Homo sapiens: one gene and its partners. The protein of the gene in region 3 interacts with the protein of the main gene of each other region in a biochemical or structural test. Each region holds a gene or a part of one and is shown on either strand. Other genes may lie near its edges. The genes, in order: PTPA, STK36, MID1 and PPM1A.

Region 1 (7,027 bases), on a different chromosome or scaffold from region 3:
ACTTCTCTCTTTTTTAAAATTTCTTTTTTTTTCCCTGAGAAAAAGCCTCAGTTATTTCTTAAAATAACTATAGGCTACTATACTTTCTTCATAGAATTGTAGTATGTGTTTTATAAGATGTGTGCAAAGCATGGGACATAGTAGGCGATCAGTAAATGCTGATTGCCCTTATCTTTTTCAAAGTTTCAAAGTTGTACAGGTTGAACATGTAGACGAGTTTCAAATGGCCAATGATAATGCTATATATTATAGTCTTTGTTGGGGGGCTTAGGAAGGAACATTTCTAAAATTCTGAATGTTGATTTTATACTGTGAGGTTGTTGGGAATCCACTGTCCCTTGGAACCTATGTCTCTATAACCTGAGGCTGGAGAGACTGTGGGCGTGACCTCATTTATCACCATCCTGCCTTTGAAGGCTTGTTTCTTTGATTTGGGATTGTGTGTTCTGGCAACTTGTGTGTGTTTCATCAGTAATTTGTTATAGTGCTTCCTGGTAAGGTAGCCTTTTCCCAAACATGGACTGGCCTGAAGGCTCTCTTCCTGTGAAATATCCCGGTTAAATAATGTCAGGAGTGCCATCCCTTTTTTTATTTTTATTTTTTGAGACAGAGTCTCACTCTGTCACCCAGGCTGGAGTGCAGTAGCATGATCTTGGCTCAGTGCAACCTCCGAGGAGAGCTGTCCCTTTGCAGAGAATGGTGATCTCACACATATAAAAGGGCTGTATGTTCCCAAAGATTATTTCCAAGTTGATTATTTGGAATGTGGGACACATTTTCCCATAAAAGCAATGTGGTTGGGTTACTAGTCTGACCTACAAAGCTTTTTATTTGGCATCTTAGTTGAAGTGCCAATTTACTAATAGCAGTTTTGGGTTCTGGGAACAGAGCTTGCAGGACAGGTGGGAGGAGGAAGAGAGCTTCTGATCTCTTTCTGGGGCCTTGGTTTGAGTTAGGCAGAGATTTGTCTTTCTCTAAACTCAGGTTCTCTATCCTTCTCCTTAGGTCTCCAAGTCCCCTGGCACTTTTCTTTTCTTCAGTTCCTCTCCAGACAGGCTCTATTTCTCCAAATGTTATATGTTCCAGAAACTTCTTAGGTCCCTGTCCCTTTTTCTCCATGTAGCTGATGTCAGCCAGGTTTTAGGAGGAAGGCAGGGGGACAAATTTATACCAGGTTGTGAGTGATTGATGATAGTCCTTTACTCTTCCACTTTAGGGAGAGTTTGCATTTTTTTTTTTTTTGAGATGGAGTTTCACTCTTGTTGCCCAGGCTGGAGTACAGTGGCGTGATCTTGGCTCACTGTAACCTCTGCCTCCTGGGTTCAAGTGATTCTCCTGCCTCAGCCTCCCGAGTAGCTGGGATTACAGGTGCCCACCACCACGCCTGGCTAATTTTTTTGTATTTTTAGTAGATATGGGGCTTCACCATGTTGGCCAGGCTTGGTCTCAAACTCCTGACCTCAGGTGATCCACCAGCCTCCGTCTCCCAAAGTGCTGCGATTACAGGCCTGAGCCACCGCGCCTGGCCAACTGCCTCCTGGGTTCAAGTGATTCTTCTGCCTCAGCTTCGCGAGTAGCTGGGACTACAGGTGTGCGCTACCATGCCCGGCTAATTTTTTTTTTTTGAGACGAGTCTCGCTCTGTCGCCTGGTCTGGAGTGCAGTGGCGCGACCTCGGCTCACTGCAACCTCTGCCTCCTGGGTTCAAGCGATTCTGCCTGCCTCAGCCTCCTGAGTAGCTGGGATTACAGGCACTCGCCACCACGCCTGACTAATTTATTTTTTATTTGAGGCGGAGTCTCGCTCTGTTGCCCAGGCTGGAGTGCAGTGGCGCGATCTCGGCTCACTGCAAGCTCTGCCTCCTGGGTTCACGCCATTCTCTCACCTCAGCCTCCCAAGTAGCTGGGATTACAGGCATGCGTCACCTCGCCCAGCTAATTTTTTTTGTATTTTTAGTAGAGACAGGGTTTCTTTTTTTTTTTTTTTTTTTTGAGACGGAGTCTCGCTCTGTTGACCAGGCTGGAGTGCAGTGGCACGATCTTGGCTCACTGCAAGCTCCGAGTTCCATGTTCTCGCCATTCTCCTGCCTCAGCCTCCCAAGTAGCTGGGACTAAAGCACCCGCCACCATGCCCGGCTAATTTTTTGTATTTTTAGTAGAGACGGGGTTTCACCGTGTTAGCCAGGATGGTCTCGATCTCCTGACCTTGTGATCCGCCCGCCTCGGCCTCCCAAAGTGCTGGGATTACAGGCGTGAGCCACTGTGCCCGGCCACACCCGGCTAATTTTTGTTATTTTTAGTAGAGACAGGGTTTCGCCATGTTGACCAGGCTGGTCTTGAACTCCTGAGCCCAGGTGATCTGCCCACCTCTGCCTACCAAAGTGCTGGGATTACGGACATGAGCCACTTCACCTGGCTAATTTTTAAATTGTTTGTAGAGATGGGGGTCTCCCTGTGTTGCCTGGGCTGGTCTTGAATTCCTGGGCTCAAGCGATCCTGCCGCCTGGGCCTCCCAAAGTGCTGGGATTACAAGTGTTAGCCACTGTGCCTGGTCTAGATTTTCTTCTTTCTACAAGTTATGAAAATTTCCATTATGTGGGCATATAATTAATTACACATCATCTTATCAACTGATATTTGGGTTGTTTCTAATTTTTTTTTGTTTTCAAGACAGGGTCTTGCTCTGTCACCCAGGCTGGAGTGCAGCTCACTTCAGCCTCAGCCTCCTGGGCTCAAGTGATCCTCCCGCCTCAGCCCCCGAATAGCTAGGACTACAGGTGTGCACCACTACACCTGGCTAATTTTTGTATTTTTTGTAGAGATGGGGTTTGGCCATGTGGTCCAGGCTGGTTTCAAACTCCTGGACTCAAGCAATCTGCCTGCCTCGGCCTCCCGAAGTTTTGGGATTATAGGCGGGAGGCACTGTGCCTGGCCTAGATTTTATTCATTTTATAAGCTATGAAAATTTTTATTATGTGGGCCTATCTTTTTTTTCTCTTTTTTAAATTTGAGACGGAGTCTTGCTGTGTTGCCCAGGCTGGAGTGCAGTGGCGTGATCTTGGCTCACTGCAACCTCTGCCTCCTGGGTTCAAGCGGTTCTTCTGCCTCAGCCTCCCGAGTAGCTGGGATTACAGGTGTGCGCCACCATGCCTGGCTAATTTTTTGTATTTTTAGTAGAGGTGGAATTTCGCTATGTTGGCCAGGCTGGTCTTGAACTCCTGGCCTCAAGTGATCCACCCGCCTCGGATTCCCAAAGTGTTGGGATTACAGGTGTGAGCCACCACACCCAGCCTCTTTTTTTTTTTAAGACAGTCTCACTCTGTCACCCAGGCTGGAGTGCAGTGGAACGGTCCAGCTCACTGCAAGCTCTGCCTCCCCAGTTCAAGCGATTCTCCTGCTTCAGCCTCCCAAGTAGCTGGGATTACAGGTGTGTGCCGTCATGTCAGGCTAATTTTTGTATTTTTTAGTAGAGATGGGGTTTCAATATGTTTCCCAGGCCTGGTCTGGAACTCCTGACCTCAAATGATCCACCTACCTCAGCCTCCCAAAGTTCTGGGATTACAGGTGTGAGTCACCATGCCGGACCTGGGCATATCATTATTTACCCATTGTCTTATCAACTGATATTTGAGTTGTTTCTTTTTTTTTTTTTTCCCCCGAGATGGAGTCTTGCTCTGTCAACCAGAGCTGGAGCGCAATGGCACGATCTCAGCTCACTGTAACCTCTGCCTCCTGGGTTCAGGCAATTCTCCTGCCTCAGCCTCCTGAGTAGCTAGGATTACAGGTGTGCGCCACCACACTTGGCTAATTTTTGTATTTTTAGTAGAGATGGGGTTTCACCTTGTTGGCCAGGCTGGTTTCGAACTCCTGATCTCGTGATCTGCCTGTCTTGGCCTCCCAAAGTGCTGGGATTACAGGTGTGAGCCACCACGCCCAGCCTATTTGGGTTGTTTCTAATTAATAAAAAATTTTTTTATTTGAGTCAGAGTTTCACTCTTGTTGCCTAGGCTGGAGTGCGATGGCACGATCTTGGCTCACTGCAACCTCTGCCTCCTGGTTCAAGCAATTCTCCTTCCTCAGCCTCCCAAGTAGCTGGGATTATAGGCATGCGCCACCACACCTGAATAATTTTATATTTTTAGTAGAAATGGGGTTTCACTATGTTGGTCAGGCGCATCTCCAACTCCTGACCTCAGGTGTGATCCACCCACTTTGGCCTCCCAAAGTGCTGGGATTGTAGGCATGAGCCACCGCGCCCCGCCTAAAATTTTTTTTTTTTTAAAGTAGAGATGGGGTCTCGCTGTGTTGCCCAGGTTGGTGTCAAACTCCTGGACTCAAGTGATCCTCCCACCTGGGGCTCCCAAAGTGCTGAGATTACAGGTGTGAGCCACTATGCCCAGCTTTTTTTTTTTTTTTTGATGCATTAAACACCTTTGTGTTTCCGTGAGCACATCTGAAAGATAGATTCCTGTAAGTAGACCTGTTGACTCATTGTGTATATGCAGTTTTTTATTCCAAAAGATTGTCCCCTTAGGAGGTCCTTCCCACCCACAGAGCGGGAGAATTCTTGTTTCCTCTTCCTGGAATCTTGTTTTGTTTTTATTGAGACAGAGTCTCGTTCTGTTGTCCAGGCTGGAGTGCAGTGGTATGATCTCAGCTCACTGCAACCCCCACCTCCTGGACTCAGGTGATCCTCCTGCTTCAGCCTCCCAAGTAGCTGGGACTACAGGTATGCAACCACACCCAGCTAATTTTTAAATTTTTTTTGTAAAGATGGCGTTTTGCCAAGTTGGCCAGCCTGGTCTTGAACCCCTGGCCTCAAGTGATCTGCCTGCCTTGGCCTCCCAAATTGCTGGGATTAGGTATGAGCCACCACACCTAGCCAGATGTTTTTAATTTGCCAACCTTATCCAGAAAGAGAAATCACATATAATTTACGTGTCCGTGCTTATTCAGGAGGTTGGCAATTTATTCCAAATGTTTACTGCAATTAGGTTTTTTTTTTTTTTTTGAGACGAAGTCTCGCTCTGTTGCCTGGGTTGGAGTGCAGTGGTGCAATCTCGGCTCACCACAAGCTCCGCCTCCCAGGTTCACGCCATTCTTCTGCCTCAGCCTCCCAAGTAGCTGGGACCGCAGGCGCCCGCCACCACGCCTGGCTAATTTTTTTGTACTTTTTTAGTAGAGATGGGATTTCACCATGTTAGCCAGGATGGTCTCGATCTCCTTACCTTGTGATCTGCCTGCCTTGGCCTCCCAAAGTGCTGGGATTACAGGCGTGAGCCACCGCACCTGACCTGTTTTTTTTTCTTCTGTGAATTGCCTGTGTATGTCTGAAACATCAACTTGGTTTTATTTTTCTAACGGTTCTGCTCTGGGGGGGAGAGGGAAGGGAGGGCATGGTTATTGAAGGGATTGTCAGTATTGCCCTTCTCTTTCCTCCCCAGAGTGAGGGAGGGCAGGAGGCTGTGGGTTTGGCTTAACAAGCCCTTACTCTGTCCTGGAAGTATGTGTCTGGTTTATTCTAAGGCTCAGGTGTTGGAGTCCTGGTTTAAAAGTGAGAGAGAGGCCGGGCGCTTTGGCTCATACCTGTAATCCCAACACTTTGGAGGCCAAGGCGGGTGGATCACCTGAGGTCAGGAGTTTGCGATCAGCCTGGCCAACATGGTGAAACCCCGTCTCTACTAAAAATGCAAAAATTAGCTAGGCATGGTGACATACGTCTGTAATCCCAGCTACTCAGAACACTGAGGCAGGAGAATCGCTTGAACCCGGGAGGCAGAGGTTGCAGTGAGCTGAGATCGCGCCACTGCACTCCAGCCTGGGCGACAGAGCGAGACTCTGTCTCAAAGAAAAAAAAAAAAATTAGCTGGGTGTGGTGGCACGTGCCTGTAATCTCAGCTACTCAGGAGACTGAGGCAGGAGAATCGCTTGAACCCTGGAGGTGGAGGTTGCATTGAGCCAAGATCGTGTCACTGGACTCCAGCCTGGGCAACAAGAGCAAAACTCCGTCTCAAGAAAAAAAAAAAAGGTGAAAGGGAGTGTGTGTGTTGTAGGGGAGGATTCTATTTATCTGTTTGTTTTTTCATTTTTTTTTGTCAAGATTCTTCAGAGGAGGCCCCTCCAGCCACTCAGAACTTCATCATTCCAAAAAAGGAGATCCACACAGTTCCAGACATGGGCAAATGGAAGCGTTCTCAGGTACCATTTGGAACTGTGGTGAGAAACTTGGGCTTTTCAAAGACAGTGGTTTTCCTAGCATGACGGGCGGTGAGTTCCTGGCCCTTCTTGCTCTTGGAGCCTGACTTTTCAGAAGCTAGGGAGAAAGGTGACAGGGGAGCTGGCTGTCTCTTCCCTTCAGAGGCAGTACTCAGAGATGCTTTATCAGGAAGGTTGCCTACTTTTTCAGGCTGCTGCCAGGGTAGCCCGGGAGAGTTCCGCTCCTGGTTCTCTTAAGCCATTGCCCCTTGAGTGTTGCTGTATTGGCTGAACATGAGTGTTTGAAATGATGGAGCGAGTCACTTTGATTCTTGGCTGCAAGTAACAGCAAGTGTGGCAGCCAGTGCCTCAAGGGGAGAAGAGGCTATCTCATGGAAACTTTGGCCAGGGATATGGCTAAGCCTGCAAATACCTGGGAGCTGGGACCCAGAGCACTGGGCACAGACTGGCTTTCTCTGCTGCTCAGCTGAAATGATGGGCAGAAGATAACTACTTGTACCTCTCAGGCTTGTGGTACAGGCTGTGGAAAGACAGACTGAGCAAAAGAAAGCCAATTTCAATTTCTCAGGGAAGGCCTCTGGCCCAGTTCTCGTCAGGCTCCTGCTCCCGGCCTGGTGAGCTGGGCTGGAGAGTGTTGCTCATGCAGAAGGCTGGGCACAGGGGTCCTTGCATGCTGGGCAGATTCTCCAGGAGACCCACACCCTACAGCTTCTATGCCTTGTCCTCACTGGGGCTTGGGGCCATCTAAACCTGTCTGATTCCTTTTTCACAAGCCTGCCCTCTCAGTATTTGGAAATAGTTATCATGTCTTTT
Region 2 (7,027 bases), on a different chromosome or scaffold from region 3:
GACAGAAAGGAGTCTCCTCATTTTATGGATGGAGAAATCAAGGCCCTGGAAGCTTGTTCTAAGCCATCCAATGAGTTAAGGTTTTCCAATGCTTCCAGTTAGATTATAATTCTAACAGGTCTGACTAAAAGCCCTTTCTGGTAAATTGTACAATCTTTAAAATAGCTATCCTTCTACAGCAGCTTGGAGTCCCTACACATTAGAACTCCACTAAATATTAAAATTAGTCACTAAGTCTGAGCAACCTAATTGACCGCTCTGTTGAATCTTACCCTTTCCTATTTCAGCTCCACCGGCCTTGACTTGAAAGTAGGTAACCAAATATAGTTCATCTAGGAAGGGGGAAATTGGTAAAGGCAAGAAATGATATAAATAAGCTGCCAGACCAGGATCTTGTGTGAACACGATACCAGCACCTCCAACACCACATAGAAGCTGAAAGAGGGGTTGAGCCTCTCAACCCTTGTCCTGGGAGCTTCAAGTATGGTGAGGCACAACTTTTATTAAAAGAGTTTACAAACAGAACTATTAAACACACACACACATACACACACACATATACACACACACCCCAAAAAAAGATACACTCTCCACGCCCACCCACAGATAGGAATGTTGGCTAAGGGATAATCCCTCAATAACAGGGACTGATGGCATTGATCCCCACAGCCTAGAGCTGAGACAGGCTCTGTCTTCATCACTGTCCTGGGGCCAGCACGTCTAAGGCAAAAACCTGCTGGGAAGATTAAAGGAGCTCCAGAAAGGAAGAGATCTTTCAGGTTGAGGTTTTTCCCTAAGGTCCGTGAGGCAGGTCCCTAGAGTTAAAGGCACATTATTGGAGAAAAGGCCCCTGGATGTAGAGAAGAAAGGACTCTTCTCTGGCACCAACAGCAATAAAATTTACTGGTTGAAAACATCCTGCATCTGGGAGAAGGAAGAAGCTTTATATATAAATCTCTTCTAGTTTCTTGTTCTCAGTTGAGTTGGCAGCTTATCTCTTTTCTAGTCTCTTTAGCTCTCAGTTGAGTTGGCGGCTTGTGTAGTAGAATAAGAAAGAGCTGGCAACCAAAGTTGGAGGCTGGACCGCAGGAATCTGGAATCACATGCTATGGGCTGGCCTCAGGAGGTGAATGAGTTTCCTGCAGTGTTTGGCAGAGGCAGGCCTAGGACTGCTGTGTGGCAGTGACTGATTCCCCAGAGAGAGCAAGGATAGTTTCTCACTGGCACCCAGGGACACCAGTACCTGTAGGATAGAGAACAGATGATAGAACAGAACATGAGGCTCAGAAATGGTGGTGTCTGGGGCAGGTGCGGAGGACTCTCATTTACCCAGGAATTCCCACTCGAGAAGAGGAAGAAAAAGGAAATGGGCTCTTGGGGACTTGGAATAGACTGAATGGCAGAAGAGAAACCTTGGAGATAGGAATCATCAGGACCAGAAGTCTACTTCCATTCTCTTTGGTTATAGACCATGAAACCAAGGCACTAAGGGACACATATACTTGTCCCCAGGAAGACTTGATGAATGCAGCAGTAACTCACAGTAAGCCAAAAGGTCTAATTCCTAGCCTTCAATGCAGACCAGTGAGTTCTAACCTCATTACCACCAAGAATCCCATTAATTATTTTCCCCATGGATTGCACAAGATTCCTATAGGATCTTCACCATCGGCCAGGCAAGGTGGCTCATGCCTGTAATCCCGTACTTTGGGAGGCCAAGGCGGGCGGGTCACGAGGTCAGGACATCGAGACCATCCTGGCTATCACGGTGAAACCCCGTCTCTACTAAAAAAAAAAAAAATACAAAAAATTAGCTGGGTGTGGCGGCAGGTGCCTGTAGTCCCAGCTACTCGGGAGGCTGAGGCAGAATGGCGTGAACCCGGGAGGCAGAGCTTGCAGTGAGCCAAGATCGCGCCACTGCACTCCAGCCTGGGGGCGACAAAGTGAGACTCCGTCTCAAAAAAAAAAAAAAGATCTTCACCATCCTCTCAAATTTCTGCTCTGCATGAACTTCCCAATGCTACCACTTTGAGATGTCATAATTTATATTACCATATGTAGATATCTGTGATTTCCAATGGGCTTTTTTTTTTTTTTGAGACAGAGTCTCGCTATGTCACCCAGGCTGGAATGCAGAGGCATGATCTCCGCTCACTGCAACCTCCTCCTCCCAGGTTCAAGGGATTCTCTTGCCTTAGCCTCCCGAGAAGCTGGGATTACAGGCGCCTGCCACCACACCCAGCTAATTTTTGTATTTTTAGTAGAGACAGGGTTTCACTATGTTGGCCAGGCTGGTCTCAAACTCCTGACCTCAAGTGATCCGCCCACCTCAGTCTCCCAAAGTGCTGGGATTACAGGCAAGAGCCACAGAGCCTGGCCTACTGGACTCTTTATATACTGAAAATCGCGGTCAGGCAGGGTGGCTCACACCTGTATTCCCAACACTTTGGGAGGCTGAGGCGGGTGGATCACTTGAGGTCAGGAGTTCAAGACCAGCCTGGCCAACATGGTGAAACCTTGTCTCCACTAAAAATGCAAAATTAGCCAGGTAAGGTGGTGTGTGCCTGTAATCCCAGCTACTTGGGAGGCTGAGACAGGAGAATCACTTGAACCTGGGAGGCAGAGGTTGCAGTGAGCCAACATTGTGCCATTGTACTCCAGCCTGGGCAACAGAGCGAGACTCCATCTTAAAAATAAATAAGTAAATAAATAAATAAATAAATAATAAAAATACAAAGATTAGCCGGGCATGGTGACAGGCACCTATAGTCCCGGCTACTCAGGAGGCTGAGGCACAAGAATTGGCTGAACCTGGAGGCAGAGGTTACAGTGAGCTGAGATTGCGCCACTGTATTCTGGCCTGGGCAACGAGTGATATTCAGTCTCAAAAAAAAAAAGAGTGGCTCACGCCTATAATCCCAGCACTCTGGGAGGCCAAGGCAGGTGGATCACCTGAGGTTGGGAGTTCGAGACCAGCCTGACCAACATGGAGAAACCTGTCTCTACTAAAAATACAAAATTAGCCAGGCGTGGTGGCACATGCCTATAATGCAGCTACTCGGGAGGCTAAGGCAGGAGAACTGCTTGAACCCGGGAGGCAGAAGTTGTGGTGAGCCGAGATCATGCCATGCACTCCGGCCTGGGCAGTACGAGTGAAACTCTGTCTCAGAAAAAAAAAAAAGGAAAAAGAAAGTTGCGCAGAAGAGGAAGGATAAAGTAGTGGTTAAGAGTACGGGCTCTGGACTCAGACTTCTGAGTTCAAAAGCCCAATCCTACATACTGTCCTTGTAATTTGGACAAGTTATTAAATTATTTGTGCCTCAGTTTCCTCATCTGCAAAATTAGGATAATAATAGTTTAAACCAGATAATAAAGGTAAAATGCTTAGCATCGTGCTTTTCTCATGGTAAGTCTAAAAAAAAAATAGTCAGCACCTTCATGGCACACAGAGTAAAACTACTCTATCTCAGCATCTCTTAGTCTTCCCTCATCTCCCTCCTGCACAGCCTCTAGAAGAGATCAACTGTGGTCCTTGAGATCTCAGACATTTCCCAGCCCATTGGAGCCCTCTTCTAGCTCCCTTCCCTCCTCCAAGGCAGGAGATGTAACTAGAAAACTCACTCCAAGACACTGTCCCTGGGAGAAACACGGCATAAGTTTCTCCATGTCCCGATTCCAATTCCTTACAGATGATCTCAGAGAAATGTTGTCAACTATAGGGGCCCTGATCATCATGGTTCATAAGTGCTGTAGGGTATACCTGATGGATGCCAGGCTCCTGTTGCAGGCTCCGGAGGGCAATGAGGGCAGCCTCCTTCACATTTGGCTGGGGGTCTCCACATGCCATTTCTAGGAGCCGCTGGGGTACTTCGCACTGTAACAGCTCCTCTCCCAAACCTTCAGGTCCCAAGTTGCCCAGAGCTGATGCAACATTGCGCCGGATACCAGCCTGAGGATCTCCAAGCAGCTGGGTCATACTGGGCACTGCAGCTGCCAGGGCAGGTCCCAGAGGACCAGCCTGGTAGGCTGCATTGCCCACAGCAAAGCTGGCACTGCACCGCACAACAGGATCCTTGTCTCCAAGCCCAAGCAGCAGAAGGCTGAGCAGTCCAGACTGGCTCTGCAGTGCCCCACGCAGGGCCATGCTGTGTTGGAGCAAGTGTCCCAGGAGCCTATAAGTGTGTGCCCGCACAGAATTCTCTGGGTGGCCCAGGAGGCTGCGCAGGGGCCGATAGGATTCATCAGAGCCAGCCAGAAGCTCTTGGATAAAGGACAAGTGGCTGGGAGACAGGACCCTGGCAGTATGGGCCAGCAGAGAGAGAAGGTCGGAGGTCAACAGTGGCTGGTCACTCAGGAGGGCAACTGAGAGAAACGAGACGATGGTTCTAGGGGAGGCAGACACTGTGTTCACAAACTGGTTGAGAGAGGTGGGATCCATGAGGGCCAGGCGTGTGAGAAGGCTGATGGGCAGCTCCACTTGCATCAACGGAAGATGGTAGCAGCAGACCTGAGAGAACAGGAGGTAAAAGGATTCAGGGAGAGAGAGAGTATATGCAGCTATAAAGAAGCCCAAAACCTGGGAGAGAGAAAAGCCAAGCTATGGTGAGAAATGCCACAGAGAGCTGGAAGTCCTGCCCCACAGCACTCCACATGAGACACAACGTGGAGCCTGAGAGAGCAGGTTCTTTCCAAGATCATTCCTTACTTTGCAAGGGCTCAGTCTCTGCCTTCAAAGACCCACTGTGAAAAAACAAAAAGAAACAACAAAAGAACAAAGACCCACTGTGCAATGCCAAGAATTGCCAGAAACATGATTCCTGGCCAAGGAGGTGAGTCTTCAGTGCCTAGACTAGGATGTTCTCCCCAATGAGCACCAACAGAACCAGGTGATGGACTGATGGAGAGGAGGAGGCACCAACCCAGCTCCCACCACATGCCTCCACCACATGCGCAGGTCTGAGTACTGTCTCCACGCCAACTTTTGAGTCAAGCCAGCTGTTCCATGCTTACAGGGGCCTAGAAGAGCCCTGGAGCTGCTGGGAAGTAAATTAGAGGATACAAGGTTGGCTATCTTCCTCTCCCACCTTCATGCTAGCTGCCCAAGTACCTGCAGCAGATGGGCTGCAACTTCTGAGTCCCTGAGGTCGGCCAAGACACCTATAAGGAGGTCAGCATCCATGTCCAGCGCAAAGGGGAAGCAAAGGAGCTGGCAGACAGAGAGCACCACGACAGGGAGAAACTCAGACCCATGAGGCCTAAGGAGAGGAATGTCGAAGAGACTTGGTCTTGTTCACTTAACCTTTATCATTCCTCCCTCCCTCCTCCAATTCCTTTGCCCAACTCCCCTTCTACAGTCTCAGCCACTACTTAGGTTTCCAGCCTAAACCTGATCTCATCTTTCTTGCTTTATAGCTCAATCTGTCAGTAACTTCTTTCCTGCCTTCTTCTTTCTCCCTCCCCGTTGCTGACTCTGTGGCTCTCTTCTAGCTCAAACTCACGCCTGGCGCAGTTGATTCAGGAAGCTGGGGCAAAGCAGATGCTTCAGGATGGACATGAGGATACTTCCATGCTGGGACAGGCAGCTCAGGCATAACTGGGGCTCCTGGGTAAAGGTGGCCATGGCCAGGCTCAGCAGGGCTGCCATGCCTGGTAACACCAAAAATGGAGACCCAATGGAACAGGCAAGACGCCCAGATACCCCTGCTTCCCCACAGCTCCCAGGGCTACACCTATTCAGTCCCTTCCCCATCTTAGAGCAGCTCTAGTGCAGACACTGCTTCCTGTCCCCAGGCAAAAGCAAAAAAAATAAACCTCTGTGGGTTAACCCAGTTCTGGGCTGCCTCCTCTTGAAGAGAGATCAATGCACTCCCAAAAAGGATACTGATAGAAAGATACCCTGGGGAGAAATCAGTGTCCAGTCTGGCTCAGGGCTTGGTGGACTGGATAGCGAAAGCTCCCCTTCCTGTGCAGATGCCTCCTCGGGGAGCCTCAGGACCATGGAGAAGCGGTGCCACAAAACGGTCCACATTTCTGAACTGGACATATCCCTGATTAGGCTAGCCTTCCCCTGCTAGAGATAAAAGTGAAAGAGGGCGGGGGGAAAGACAGAAGTCAGGAATCCAAATGCTTTTATTCATTCCTGTCCCTGACTTACAAGTAAAGGAAGTCCCAGAAATAATTCCTTCCGCTTTCCCACCTAGTATTTCCCTGTCGTCTTATTTCATTTTCTTATCAAACCTTAACCCTCTGACCTCACAACTCATGTGTATGTCTGCTGAAACCCAGGGAATTCATTTTATCTCCCACTGGATCCCAGGGGACGCAGCGAATGGTTTCCTTCAAAGGGTCAGTACTGAGGGCAGGCGGGGAAGTTCCAAGGCTATCACAGGCACAGTAGCTTGAGAGGGAAGGCTGTGGGTTGCTTCTTCATTCCTCTGGTCCAGAGGCTCCCCAAAATGCCCAGTTCCTCTCTCTTTACTTCCCATCCATCCCAAGATCCATCTGTACCTCAGTGAGGAGCTGCAACAGAAGGATAAGGAGGCCATCATAGAATCCACAACTACCTGGTGGAGTCAACCGAACCTGTCAGAGAGAAACATGAAGAATGCAGGTGCCTAAGAGGAATGGGGTGTCCGTTAAACCAAGGCAGGTCAGTGATGGTGCCATGGAGGGAACAGATTTGAGAGTCAACCGGAAGGTAGAATATATGGGGCCTGGGGGAACCATTTCGGTGGGGGAATAATGGGGAAGAGAGAACAGTCACTGATGACTCCCAAAGTTCTGACTTAGACTTCTGGATGAGTGTTAGTGCTATCACTAGTGATACAACCTCTCTGAAGGCTAACTTAGTCTAGAAAAAGCAGATGAGTATTATTACATTGGTGTGTCTATATTTCAAGTGTGTTGTGGGATAACATGTGAAAATGTTTTATAAATTATAAAGAATTCAGCCACTGAGGTAGCTCACGCCTGTAATCCCAGCACTTTGGGAGGCTGAGGCGGGGGGATCAGGAAGTCAGGAGTTCCA
Region 3 (7,027 bases):
GAGCTGCCTTGGCCTCTCAAAGTGCAGGCATTACAGGCATGAGCCACCAGCCCAGCCTAAGCTTTTCTTTGATATGTACAGAAATAGATTTCTAAAACAAAAGCCAGCTAACTATAGCTCAAGGGCCAAATCTGGCTGCCTGATTTTGTAAATAAAGTTTTATTAGCATATAGCCACACCCATTCATTTACCTATTGTCCTGTCCGTGGCTGCCCCCTCACTATAGCAGAAGAGTTGAATAGTCACAAAAGAGACCACATGGCCTGGCCTGCATAGCCAAAAATATTTACTGTCAGGCCCTTTGCAGAAAAAGTATGCTGGTCCGTGACCTAAAAAGAAAGGATTTTAGAGGTGCTGGTGTTGTGTTGTGTTTGTATCCAAAAGGCAACTGGAAATCCTTTGGCCTACCCACATGTGACAACACACACTGTCCTATACTCACTGGGTCAGTTTCTCGCCCAGCATCGTGTATTGCCACAGTTGAATTTACTAGACCTTTTCCTGTGATTGAGAGCTGTATACTGGGCAGAAGGAACCTGCCAACTGCAACAGTGACTGTGGAGTTTGGACACCATGGCATTTGTATCAGGTTGCAATGCATTTCCTGCCTTTAAACGCCTTGTACCCAATGCAGTGTTGAATGACAGGCAGTACTCCAAACCAATATTGAATTGTCAAAGAAGAAGTAACAACTATGACAAAATGTCCAGGTGTGACTCTGCCAAGATTTTTTTAATACTTAAATCTTTAAGACACAAATGTGAGTAATGAAATAGAGAAGGCCTTATTATATATAAATAATTTCATGAGTAGAAAACCCAGGCATTGCTATCACATTTTTTCCTAATTTTGTGGCCTGAAAATTGTATTCTCATCCTAAATTCCTAAGAGTAATGCTTTAATTTTTAATAATCTCAGAATAATATAAACCTCTAGAATATTCTATATGTTAAGACCCAAGATCTTGATTTGTTTGGTTTCTGGTCTGAAGTCTATTGAGCATGAATGCATCTTATGCTGGATAGAACACTGCAGTGGTTGAAAATGGAGTCTTCATTCATTCCTCCTTTTCAGGATGCTATCCAGCCAGTATGTACCTGTGCTGCTTGTATACACCTGGAATCCGTGAAGCTAGCTCACCCTATGTTTTCTGGCTAAGCCTTATCCATGCTGTTGTTGAATAGTTGGCATGCCACCACTGGATCCCTATCTTAGAACTGGTAGACTGAAAGCTTATGAAGACAGGAACATGTTCTTTTTCACTCTTACTGTGTACTGTACTATACACAGAGTTGCTGCTCTCTATTGTCTTTTGAATATTATGAAAACTTTGCAAGCAAATGTCTTTGAAAGTTGCTTATAATGTTTAAATTACTATTAAAATATAAGATACCACTTTGTGATAGGAGGCATGACTCAGGGAGGGCTGGCTTGTTCCTGTCTTTTAAACCTGATTTTGAAAATATGCTATTGGTTATGATAAAATAAACAATCCTCTTCCTCTTCCTTTTTCTGTTTTGTGAATTTGTTTTCAGGCCAACCATTTAAACTGGATCCCAAATCTGCTCATCGAAAACTGAAGGTGTCCCATGATAACTTGACAGTAGAACGTGATGAGTCATCATCCAAGAAGAGTCACACACCTGAACGCTTCACCAGCCAGGGGAGCTATGGAGTAGCTGGAAATGTGTTTATTGATAGTGGCCGGCATTATTGGGAAGTGGTCATAAGTGGAAGCACATGGTAAGCAACTTATTTCTATTGTCCTGCAGTTATAAAAAGGCACATCTCATTCTGTACTTAGAGAGTCAACCCATACTGTAATGCATCTTAAAGAATAAAATGCAGAAAAGTTGTATTAGTCAGCTCTTGCTAGGATAATACTGCATAACAAACACCCCCAAACTCAGCAGATTCAAACAACAACCATATATTACTAATACCCACACCTGTGGGTTCTCTGTTCAAGATTATAGAGCTCTGATCATTGGATGAGCTATACCATGTTAACACTGCTCTTTCATGCCATGAAACATGGGTTGGCAAACCACAGCCCATGAGCCAAACCTGGCCTGCTACCTGGTTTTGTAAATAAAGTTTTATGGGAATACAGCCAGGTCCATTTTTTTACATATAGTCCATGGCTGCCTTTCAGCCACAACAGCAGAATCGAGTAGTTAAGAGAGAATCATATGGTCTACGAAGCCAAAAATATTTACTTACTTTCTGGTCCTTTCCAGAAAAAGTTTGCCATTCCCTACTTTTAAACATCACTCTTCATCATTACACAAAACTAATTTCTGTTGCCTTGTATGTTTTATGGTTCTAGACTGGACCAATTAGTGCAAATAGCTAAGGGTTGAATGGTGGGGGTGAAGCAGTGATCATAGGCTGGGAATAATTTCAAAAGGCCTGTTAGATCCAGCCCAGTGACTTTAGCCCACTGAGTTCTCTAAGAATAAGGGCAAAGGTCAGGACACAATTACATTGGAATTAGTTAACCTCACAAAGTTAACCTTGCCTAATCCACAGCCACAACTGCACCCCTTTGACCGTCTGTCTCACAAATGCCTGCTTGCTATTGATCAAAAAGGGAGCTATTTTATTTTTATTTAACAAGCCCTCATATGGTACAAGTATGTGCCAGGCACTGGTCTAAGCATTTTACAGATGTCAACTCATTTATTCAGCCTTACAGCCCTACAAAGGTAGGTGCTAATATTATCCACTTTACTGATGAGGTGACTGAGGTATATGCTGAAGATCACAGGGTTACAAAGCTCACAGGTGGCAGAGTCAGTAAGTCTGCAGTCAAGGGTCAGGCTCTTAACCAGCAGTCCACAAACATTATCTGTAAAGGGCCAGAGATTCAATATTTCTGGTTTTGCATGCCAAATGATTTTTGTCACTAATACTCGACTCTTCTGTTGTAGTGGGAAAGCAGCCACAGACAACACCTACACAAATGGACATGGCTGCGTTCCAATAAAACTTCATTTATAAAAACAGGCAGAGGGCCAGAGTTGGCCCCTGGGTAGTAGTTTGCTGTTCCCCGCTCTTAACCACCATGGTATGCTGCTATTCACAAAAGGGTGGTATATTTTTGAAATGCTATAATTACTCTCTAGGGTTTATGACAGTGTACGTAATGAGTGATAGCTGAATCCTTGCTTTAAAAAATAAAATCAACATTCAAAATTGCATAGCCTGAAGATGGTGAGTATAACAGTGTTTCTTTCAATATAAGCATGATAAAACACTTATTTATATATAAAAAAACCTTTCAATTCAAACCTATGCAAATAATGTGACATGGCTGAGTCCTTTATATTGTAGGTAGAAATTAGCCAAAAATCTAAGAAGTGAATTGTAAGCTTCCCATCTCTCCCAATAATGGTACATACTATATTGGCTGAGCGAGTAGGTTTTCCTTTGTTGCTATCCTCATAATTCTCTTTGCCTAGAAGAGTTTTCTGTTCCAACATCCTGCCAGAGGATGGAGGACAAATCCTTCACCCCACTAGGCTCTGGGCTAGATTGGCATTTGCAATTTTTAGCTGCAGTGGGGCAAAATTAAAGCACAAAGGAAAACACAATGGATGCAGGTACAAAAAAAGCAAATGTTTCTAGTTAATTAATGTGCTGTATTAATCTGGGATAGAATCCAGGGTCTAAATGATTATTACTCTATTAATAATTAATTATGATAAATGAAACCTGATCATTATGATCTCATTGCCATTGATGAATAGTTTGCAAAATTCCATCAGACCACTTCAGTTATATAAACACACATCAGCATTACCTTGAAAACACCCTCCAGATGTCAAAACTAACTCATGAGGGGGAAAAGAAATTCTAAAATTAATTGCTACACAATTAATCTTTACAAACCTGACGGTGTCAATTTCAGAAAAATCTTCATGTAGAAAGTCACTTTACATTTCCTTGGGGGGTATTAGCAAGGAAGGGGCACCCCCTACGATTAAATGCCTGTGACATCTTGACTTGCAACAGCTAATGACATATTTGCTTATGAAATATAGTCCTGACTTTAAATTGATGTGTACATTATGATCTGTGCAATGGGGCACGTTAACATTGCTCCGAGAGACATAATTTTTATACTTTGAATTCTCCGTGTCTCACTGCGTAACTTAATGGAACATTACATTCTGCCTGCACATTTCAAGCTCAATGGAAATATGTACCTAGTTTCACAGATTAATGATACTATAATGGTATTTTCCTTTGCTTAATGGACTATACACTTAGTATTTTCTTACTCTCTAATGCTAATGTGCACTTGGTGTTTTATGAAATGGTGTTAACTAAATGAGTAATAACGGGTTCATGCAAAGATTATTAGACCAGAAGGGGTGGGGGCAGCATACAACTCTGGATTTTGCTCCCAATTTTAATCTTCTGTTTCTACTTGCTACATGTAGTCAGCCATACCTGCCACAGCTATTTCATAGGGTTCAGTTAAGGTTCAAATGGGAAATAAACATCAAAGTAATAAAAAATAAAAATGCTGTGCCACAACAAGAAGGAAACAATACAGATGTGGTGATTTTGTGATGCAGGTTCCAAATTGTCTGAAAAGCGGAAATAGTATTCACTGGGGTATACAGAACATTTTTGGGGGGTGGGAGATACTGACAATTGCAAAATGAAAACCTTTCCAAAATGTATGTATTAGTCTGTTTTCATGCTGCTGGTAAAGACATAACCAAGACCAGGCAATTTGCAAAAGAGGTTTATAATGGACTTACTTACTTACAGTTCTATGTGGCTGGGAAAGCCCACAATCATGGCAGAAGGCAAGGAGGAACAAGTCCCGTCTTACATGGATGGCAGCAGGCAAAAAGAGAGCTTGTGCAGGGAAACTCCCCCGTTTTAAAACCATCAGATCTCATGAGACTTATTCACTATCACGAGAACAACACTGAAAGGACCTGCCCCCATGATTCAATTTCCTTCCACCGGGTCCCTCCCACAACATGTGGGAATTCAAGATGAGATTTGGGTGGGGACACAGCCAAACCATATCAGTGTATCAAATAAACAGATGACATTTGAGACCCTCGATGCATGCCACAGAAGGGAGCCAGAAGCTTACAGGACCCTGGAAGGGCTGGGGCATGAAGTCAGGGAGTCTGCTGCTCTAGTTCATGGAGTCATGATGAGCTGTAGCTGCTGCAAAGTTGCCCACAGCACAAGGCAGGTGTACTCAGGCGCTCATCTAGAAGCTTCCACCAACCGCACGTCTACTGTCTGCCATCAGGAAAGCGTGTTTCCCCTCCTCTAAGCACTTCTGGATCTTGTGCAAAGGCATCACAATAGCAGAGCCTGACCCAGACTCCTACAGGAAAGGGGATTCTGGGAAATGCAACTTGGATTCTCCTCATAAGCAGGAGAGGATGGACGGGAGGGAAGAGAGGATGCAACATTGATGACAGACAGGCCTGCACACTGGGCTTGGCAGATTATCAATTCCATCCTTCTTTTGGATTTAGTGATGGCATGTTGTGTTAATTTTCTTTTTAAACAAACACACCACTCTTAAAGTGATTGTATTTTAAGTCCAGTGTGATTTTTTTTAAAGAATGTCATTTTATTAAAGACCCATGAAATTTTTCTCTCTGCATTGGGTAAGGTACCATATGTTAATATCCAATTAGACTGGTTTCTGCTATAACATATTAAAAGTTCAACTGTGAGTCATTTACTCTTTATAAAGAGTGATGGGTTTTGTTTATCTTAATAACTGAAATACGATGAATATTACAGAGGCATGACTCAGAGGGGTAAAAAGAGATTAAGATGCTTAGAACATTGTAGAAAGCATTCTTTGGATTTTTTTGAGCAGCAAGAGAACATTTAGAATAACCAGAAGATCCGTCTGCTCAAACACGTTCAGAATTTTTTTTCCAGTATAATCAGAAAGGCTCTTGGCAGTGATGAACTGCACAATTTCTGGTTACGGATGGCATTGTAGAATGTAGTTCGTGTTTGTGGGTTTTGAGTCATCCTGAGTTCAAATTCTGATTCTGGTACTTATTGTTAATATGTGCCATCAGGCAATAATAATAAAATAAATAGCAGTTACTGAATATTACATGCCAGGTCCTGTGCCTGGGACTTAACATGTATTCTCTCCTTTACTCCTTAAAATAACACTGTATATTTCTCAATATACATGAGAAAATTGGGGCTGAGTAATGACAAAGGATTTATCCCTGCAAATGGGAATCATCTTCTGTGCTTGCCCTTGGCAAAGTGCATTCAGAATCAGAAAATGACAGACATGGTGTTAAATGAAAAATTATAAGAAGGTCAAAAGGAGAAGTCTAGGGTTGTGCTGTCCAGTATGGTAGCTATGAGCCACAGGCAGCTATTTAAATCATTTAACTTAATGAAAATTAAATAAATTTAAAGTTCAGTTCCTCAGTCTCACCAGCCGCAGCTAAAGTGCCCAGTAGCCATATGTGGCTTGTGGTTACCATATCGAGGAGAGCAGAACATTTCAGTCATTGAAGAAAGTTCTTTTGGTCAGCACTGGTCTAGCGAATTCATTGTGTAGATTTTTATAAGAGTGAAAAAAAGCAGCAAAACTCAAAGTTCAAATTCTCCGTAGTGTTTGAGCTGAAAACAGAAATGTGGGTAAATACGACGCTTCTTTCCACCCACTACTTTCCACCCACTTTCCATGTTTGGGAGGGAAGGAGATGAGGAACACAGATGTTGGGGTTCTTGCCAAGCTTTCACTTAAAGAAAATGAACAGGGACAACAAATGATCATGTTTTTATAACCCCTGAGGACCACAGAACGGATTTAACGTGCATGTGCAACATGGCTCATTGTTTTTGTTGTTGCTGTTTTGTTTCCGCAGGTATGCCATTGGTCTTGCTTACAAATCAGCCCCGAAGCATGAATGGATTGGGAAGAACTCTGCTTCCTGGGCGCTCTGCCGCTGCAACAATAACTGGGTGGTGAGACACAATAGCAAGGAAATCCCCATTG
Region 4 (7,027 bases), on a different chromosome or scaffold from region 3:
CTGGTATTTAACTACTTAAATCTGAGACATTTCACATTACTTTCCCCACTACTCCCCTAACTTTACATTAATTTTAAGGCTATATATACAAATATGTATATTTCCAAGTTAGGGAAAAAACAAATATAACAAAATGGACTATACTGGTTTTTATACACAAAATTTTGATTTTGTATTCAATGTTGTATTTTAGTCTTACATTTCAACAGTTTTCTAGTGGGAATCTGCCTACTGAATGATTACATGGTGATAAATACAATATTCAACCTAAAGAGACAAAAATACAGAAGGGCACGGAACAGTAATCTTTTCAATGCGACAGATTTTAAAACTTACTTTCACATGCTTAATCAGAGGAATTTAAGCCTAAATTAAATTAGGTTATTTTTATATCTACAATTCCTTAAGCTTTGAAAGTTATTTGTAAAGGCCAACAGCTAAATATTATCAACATGCTATATTTCAAATCACAAATACATCTTAACCACTTGGATTCTAAAGACATGGGCCAATTAAAAATCACAGGCAAACACACACTCACAAACACACACACACACACCCCTACCATAGAGTGTTAGATTGTCAAACTTTGACAATAAATATTTTAATTAAACAGTAGGCAAATCCAAGCTGATACACATCTTAATGAAAAATAAGCAGCCTGAAAGAAACCTATTTAAAAAATAGATTAAGGTACAACCAAGAATTAAATCTTTTAGTCTTTCTAATGGAAGGAAAGTTTCATCTATGCCTTGAGTGACAGTGTTGTCCAATTAAAAGAGACTAACATCTTTCCCTATGAGAAACGTCTCATTACAACGGCACAGTGTTTTAAAAGGCCAGGGTAAAAGAGGAATTACACATACATGATTAAGTTTCTTGTTTGTTAAATCAAGCTTTATTGATAAAATGGAATTCAGAATATCTTACTAGGAACAGCAGCAGGCCCAGCCAATCATGATAGCAAAAATGTGGCAGTTTCCTACTATATGTAGGAAGCTGCTGCTTATCAATTAGTAATTAAATGTAAGGACTTGAAAAGAGGTGCAAAGAAACAAGGCATTTAGCCCCAAGATTGAGATTCTTATGAATACACTGTATTATTACCTGCAATACTCATGGAAACAACGAAGGAACATCCTGAAAGACAGTTAAATGAAGGGACTGGCTTTATCAACAATGCCAACTCCCCTACCAAGAACATTTAAGATAGTTTTCAATAACTCCTTGGATGTTCAGCTTTGTAAGATTTTGAGGTTATTTTCCATAATCATCTGCACATTTGAGCGTGTAGCTGACATGGCTGCTGCTCTCCCTGTTCCAACCCCAAGTCCAAACACAACATGACTTGAAAGGGCTATATATCTGTTGCATCACACAATAAGCCAAACATTTCTTGTAACTTTGATAGTGATTTAAAGCAGTTCATAATTAAATATGAGCATTTTGTACAAGGACAATTACACTTTACAAAAAAACAAAATCATACAACAAAAATTGCTGGAGTCTGATTTACAACACGAATTATGGTTTGAAATCACGCTTACATAAGTCTCAAATTTACAAAAAAAAAAAAAAAAATCAGTTCTGGGCTAGCTGTTGTACTGCTGAAGTTCTCTGATGTAATCATTCTCACCCATGTCATATCCCCTTCCTTAAAGTTGAGGATGGATGTTAAAAGTTTCAACAAAGTTGAGCTGTACTCTCCTTTGGAGGTGAAGGTAAACTCCATGGCTAGATGAGCAGTTTTACCACATATCATCTGTTGATGTAGAGTCCTTTGTAAAAGGAAGCAAAATAAGGAACAACGTTAAAATTTAGCGGTGCCAAAATACACCATACTTTCTGGATAATGGAGAAAGATAATGTTCTGTAAAGATGACTTTTAGAATATAAATGTTTTTTAAAGTATATAAGTATATATGTGTACATATGAAATAGCAATGTTTAATCTGTTCAAAGAATTGTTAATCCTTTGTTTTGTTTTGGAAAATATTTGAAATGCGGTTTTATGATGAGGCTGTCCAAATGTATTACTCAATCAATAAATCTACTAAAAAGAATTTTTTAATGAAATCCAATACAGTTTTAGAATACCACTTTTATAAACCTTTAATGCATCAGAAAAGATTAAGAACTCAATATGTGAGGAAGCTTCATAATGCAATACATAAAATATTTCAGAGCTGTGCCCACATGATCTTTAAGTTATCACTTTTCTATAAACATCATACAACAGAATTGCAACAGAACACTTAACTGGAGAGTATGGCATTCTAATGTCTATTTATGCAAACAATTCTCTAATATTTAAGTGAAGTATATACTTCAGGATTCCTGACAAAGGTATTTCCAACCATAAGAACTATTTAGTTGAGACAGACATTCCGAAGTTCTGCTGCAGCTGCTTACAAAACTCAGAATAAGACAATATTCTGAGTAGAGATAGTCCCAACTTCGGGAAAAAAAAAAAAAAAAAACCATGTAGTGGAGGCAAACCTTCTGAAGTTGATTGTTTGTAAAGACTTAAAAAATCTAGAATAATTCAAAAGGACTTTCTTCTTTTTTGAGAGAGGTGGCCACTCACCATGATTATGTCCTCAATCACTAGAACTGTGGTGCAGGCAGAGATCAGAGCAAGCAGAGTTCAGAGCAATCAATCAGGGGTGTGTGTAAGAGAATGGGTACAGTGAACAGCTCTGCAAAAACAGGTAGGAAGGATATGCATTTAGAGTGGAGGGGAAGGGAAAGCAGAGGGAGCTAAAATGCTACTTACAGTGTCGTCATTTTTGTAAGGATTCAGTCTATTGTAAACGGCTTCAATAACATTCCTCCTAAGTGTAAAAAAATGCAGAAAATTAATTCTTCAGAAAGCAAAACATTGCTTAGTAACTCATAGCCAGGTGTTTATTAAAATTTCTAAGATAATCTTATACTCAGATATTATTTTAGTTCTATTTCTTGCTGTCAATAGTGAGCCTCACTTTTAAGATATTTGGGCTCCTATGTTAAAGCAGAGGTGAGTCTACTCTAAAATGTGTTATAACACTCTACCAACCCAGTTAATAGAAGGCTAAAAATTACAGATTAAAAAAAAAGTCTATATAGTCTACTTCCATTTGAATTGGTTTAAATGGTTATGAGTCATCAATGGCAATGCCATTCTTAAGATATAATACTAACATAAGCTAGTTGAGTTGCATCGTAGTTTTGAAGTCTCAGATTATACTTTATATTTAAGCTTCTACTTTTCTTAATGCCCTTTTCAAAAGTTCTATTAAAACTGAAATGTCAAATAAGACATTTCCATGACAAGTCTAGGAATTAGTTTTGAGTAACACTTTATTAAAAATCTGTAGTATATTTATAAGTTATAGTCTCCCTACTTCCAAAATTGACTTGAAGCAATTTTATAGATCGTTTCATAGAAAGTCATATGGAAAAAAAAAGTTTCCAAAAAATAAAAGCTTCAAACAGGAGCTTTTACAATCACTATTTAGTGATTACAAAGAACATGGTCACACTTGCAAAACACAGTAGAGAATCGAGAAAATTAGTCAATAATATATCTTCACTGTAAGTACAAGAAGTCTTCACTTGTAGTTTTAGCACATTTACTCTATATCCAAATTCAAGCTAAAGGTATTTGCAAGTTTTATGTTTGTAAGTCAATTATATGGATATTTGAGGTAAAAATGTTTTAACCCTTGGAATTGCTTGAATTTTCCACTTTATTATGTAAAGGTGTAAGCTTAATATTTAACACAAAGTAGTCCAATTCTATGAACTAAAGTGGAAAGGGAAAAGACAAGAAATATATTCTATCTTCTTCCCTGACACCTAAAACCAACTAACCAGCAATCAACAACCAAAAATACTGGGAAAATCAGGCATAGAAACATGGTCCATATGAGGAAGGGGAATTTTCAGGGTGTTAAGTTACTCAGGGATTGACCAAATCAAATTATACTACTACTAACAACGACACTTAGAATTTTGTAAATTTTTATGTAGTGCTATGTAATTTAGTTTAAAAAGTTCTTTCAGTATATTATCTCGTTTATGCTCTATGAGGAAATCAATGCCAACCAAGCTTCCAATAAAGACAACCCTCACTGCAATTAGTTACAATGATACTGATACCTATGTCTAAACAAACTCTAGATATTCTAATACTAAAAAAAAATTGAAATCACAGGTTAAAACACAGATAACTGCATCAGTTCAGAAATTAGGCAAACAAACATTTTATCAATGAATACCTAACATTTTCATACACTGACATAAAGCATAAGAGTGTACAGAATGTAACTTACTTGCTTGCCAATTCACCCCCTGGTGGGAGGCTGGGGATGTTCTCACTCGCTAATGTGCGCATCACATGGACTAAGTCGGGGACGCCTTCCCCCTGCTTCTTTATGATTTCTGGGAATCAGAAGTACTTTTTTTGTAAGTGTTATCCAAATTTAATTGAAAAGAAAACCGAAACAAAGATAACCTAGCTTTTTAAAGATGGCATTTACCACATCTGAGATTTTTCTAATCTGGTATCATTTAAAAAAAAAAAAAATCAGGTTGACCTTTGAAGATTTATGACAAAAAATGCACAAAATGACATATAAGATTAACTTCAAATCAAAATTAAAATGTGAAAAAATATTTCATGTTAAATCAGCATATTATATAATCAAGGATATGTGTGCACAAGTGAGAATACCCTTTCTTAAGATGTCAACTAGTTTCTTCTTACATCACTCCTCTCTTTAGACTGGAAACATGTTTCCTGAACTTTGCCCTATATAATACACTGCGTGGAATTTTAAAAAATAAACAATTTCAAGATTTGAAAATAACAACCCTTAATTATAGGGGAATTTATAGATTATATACTAACTCAATTATTTTTATGTATATATTTATATTTGCAAAATGATACTTAAATAGCATGCACAGATTATGTACTTGAACATCACTGTCTCAGTTTAATTCTTCTCTAAAGTACCTTTAAACAATATACTGTATAGATATATAATACCATTTCCTTCACTGATTACTTCAACAAAGCCTTGAATAGAAAAGGTCTAAATTTCCTTATAAAATGTTTAAAAAGAGAACCATTTGATAAACCATACAACTGCATTTAAAATAATTTTAAAATATCCAGTTATTAAAAGGGCACAGCAATATGATCTGCAGTGTTGTCATGCAGATGCATACTATTATTCACATCACAAAATATAAAAAATTATGAACAAAGAACCTTACAAAGAACTCTACAACTATTCCTCTAAGTATAAAAAGTCTTCACTTGCAGTTTTAGCACACATACTCCACATGCAAATTCAAGTCAAAAGTATTTGTAAGTTATATGGTCAAGTTTTGTTCAGTTTGTTTTTCAATGTTTATGGTAAGAAATGGTATTTTATTTGTCATTAGTGGGGCAAGAAATCATCATTCTGCTTCTCAATTTGTAAATACCTTTGAAAATAACAATGTGTATAAAGATTCGTCCTTTGATCAGGCCTCAAAATTTTTAAAGACATGGCTACCCATAATATTTCTTTAAATGGTTCAAACTGTCCTTTTAGAATAAAGGCCAAATTTTTACCATCTATTATTTTTTGCCTTAAAAAAAAAAACAGTCTTAAATCTGAACAAAAAGCAAGGATCTCAGATTTGGTTTGCCAAGTTCCTTTATTGTGTAATCTTTAACATCTAGTATATTTGTTCTACATGGTTCTAATGCTGGAAATCTGCTGTACAAAAATAAAGGGATTTGATGTTTACCTAAACTGCACAATTTCACAATCTAAAACTAATACACTTAACATACAGTCTCCGCTAAGCCAATACAATTATTTGGATAGATAACTAGATACAATAGAAATAAACACTGATGATAAATTGAATCAATAGTTTCAGGTCTAAAAAACATTACCTTGAATCATCTATATTTGATGTATCTTACATCTCTTTTGTTAAAATATAAATTAGGATATTTTAACTGTGAAGAAAATTACAGGAAAACAAATTCTTGTAAAAAAATAATGTAAAGCTTTAAAAACAGTTAATATCTCCTGTTCCACGTGGGACAACGCATTTAAACTACCTGACCATTCATACTATACTAGCCTTGCTTCTGTCTGCTTTCAAAAAAGAAAAATAAATGAATTTTAAGAAATATTCCTTTAATTTCTGTTGACCTATACGTTTTACTTAGAATTGTAAAAAGACTGAACGCTTTTTCTAAAGAATATTTATATATAGAAGATCCATGTTTCACATACATATACACAAACACATTCTGCTCCTTTCCACTCCCCTCCACCAAGTTTCAGGGATTCTATCAGTCATCTCCAAATTAGCAACTTTAAAGCTAAGGTAGTCAGTAGCAAAGATTTTGAAAATATATACACAAAAGTATAATTTTAAATTGGCTTAGAAGGACCACAAAATTAATAGTAGTATAAATTATGAGCTGAATCTTTTCACACCCCCAGAGAGTCAAGTATTTAGAAGGGAACAAATAAGAGAAAAGGAGAGCTGGAAGGCCTTTGTCCTTTTCTATGGTGTGGACAGAGAAGCCAAAAATGTTCCAAGCAAATAAAATGAGGTTTAGTAGGTCACAGCAATCTAGTGAAGGCATGTATTTAAAGAAAGAAGAGAGAGAGAAAAGAAAAAGGCATTCAGGTGCCTGCTTTGGAAGCTGAAGGCAGTATTTTTCACTGAGGACACACAACTTTTACAATACAAACAGTTACATTCTATGTTTTAAAATAGCAGCAATTTTAATGTAATATTTATTCTCTAGTTGCAGTCTCATCAAATCTGAGTAAAAAATACCATATTTAATTTATGACAATCTCCAATTGAATGGTACAAGTATAATAACACTTTAACATATCAAAAATATTGAGTATCAATGTAAACTCTGTCCAGGTGGCAACTCTTGCTTGATAATAAGAAATATAAAACTTATTATTGTAACAAAATAACGTAAAGTGAATATTTCATAATTCCATCTAAA

Evidence for each region.
Region 1: of the proteins of MID1 (region 3) and PTPA, one has a biochemical effect on the other in vitro, tested with the Homo sapiens proteins (one study listed by BioGRID).
Region 2: of the proteins of MID1 (region 3) and STK36, one has a biochemical effect on the other in vitro, tested with the Homo sapiens proteins (one study listed by BioGRID).
Region 4: the proteins of MID1 (region 3) and PPM1A form a complex in vitro, tested with the Homo sapiens proteins (one study listed by BioGRID).

What each region holds. Positions count from the first base shown.
Region 1 is NC_000009.12:129,114,415-129,121,441, forward strand, and holds part of PTPA (serine/threonine-protein phosphatase 2A activator), read left to right. Parts: intron 1-6,098; coding exon 6,099-6,196; intron 6,197-7,027. UniProt on the Homo sapiens protein: PPIases accelerate the folding of proteins. It catalyzes the cis-trans isomerization of proline imidic peptide bonds in oligopeptides. Acts as a regulatory subunit for serine/threonine-protein phosphatase 2A (PP2A).
Region 2 is NC_000002.12:218,696,082-218,703,108, reverse strand, and holds the end of STK36 (serine/threonine-protein kinase 36), read right to left. Parts: intron 6,583-7,027; coding exon 6,508-6,582; coding exon of another isoform or gene 6,475-6,507; exon of another isoform or gene 6,112-6,474; intron 6,071-6,111; coding exon 5,896-6,070; intron 5,647-5,895; coding exon 5,499-5,646; intron 5,256-5,498; coding exon 5,108-5,255; intron 4,508-5,107; coding exon 3,761-4,507; intron 1,244-3,760; coding exon 1,100-1,243; 3' UTR 394-1,099; downstream 1-393.
Region 3 is NC_000023.11:10,449,586-10,456,612, reverse strand, and holds part of MID1 (E3 ubiquitin-protein ligase Midline-1), read left to right. Parts: intron 1-1,535; coding exon 1,536-1,743; intron 1,744-6,896; coding exon 6,897-7,027. UniProt on the Homo sapiens protein: Has E3 ubiquitin ligase activity towards IGBP1, promoting its monoubiquitination, which results in deprotection of the catalytic subunit of protein phosphatase PP2A, and its subsequent degradation by polyubiquitination.
Region 4 is NC_000014.9:60,287,204-60,294,230, reverse strand, and holds part of PPM1A (protein phosphatase 1A), read right to left. Parts: exon of another isoform or gene 5,676-7,027; intron 4,426-5,675; coding exon 4,317-4,425; intron 2,835-4,316; coding exon 2,777-2,834; intron 1,779-2,776; coding exon 1,749-1,778; 3' UTR 1-1,748. UniProt on the Homo sapiens protein: Enzyme with a broad specificity. Negatively regulates TGF-beta signaling through dephosphorylating SMAD2 and SMAD3, resulting in their dissociation from SMAD4, nuclear export of the SMADs and termination of the TGF-beta-mediated signaling.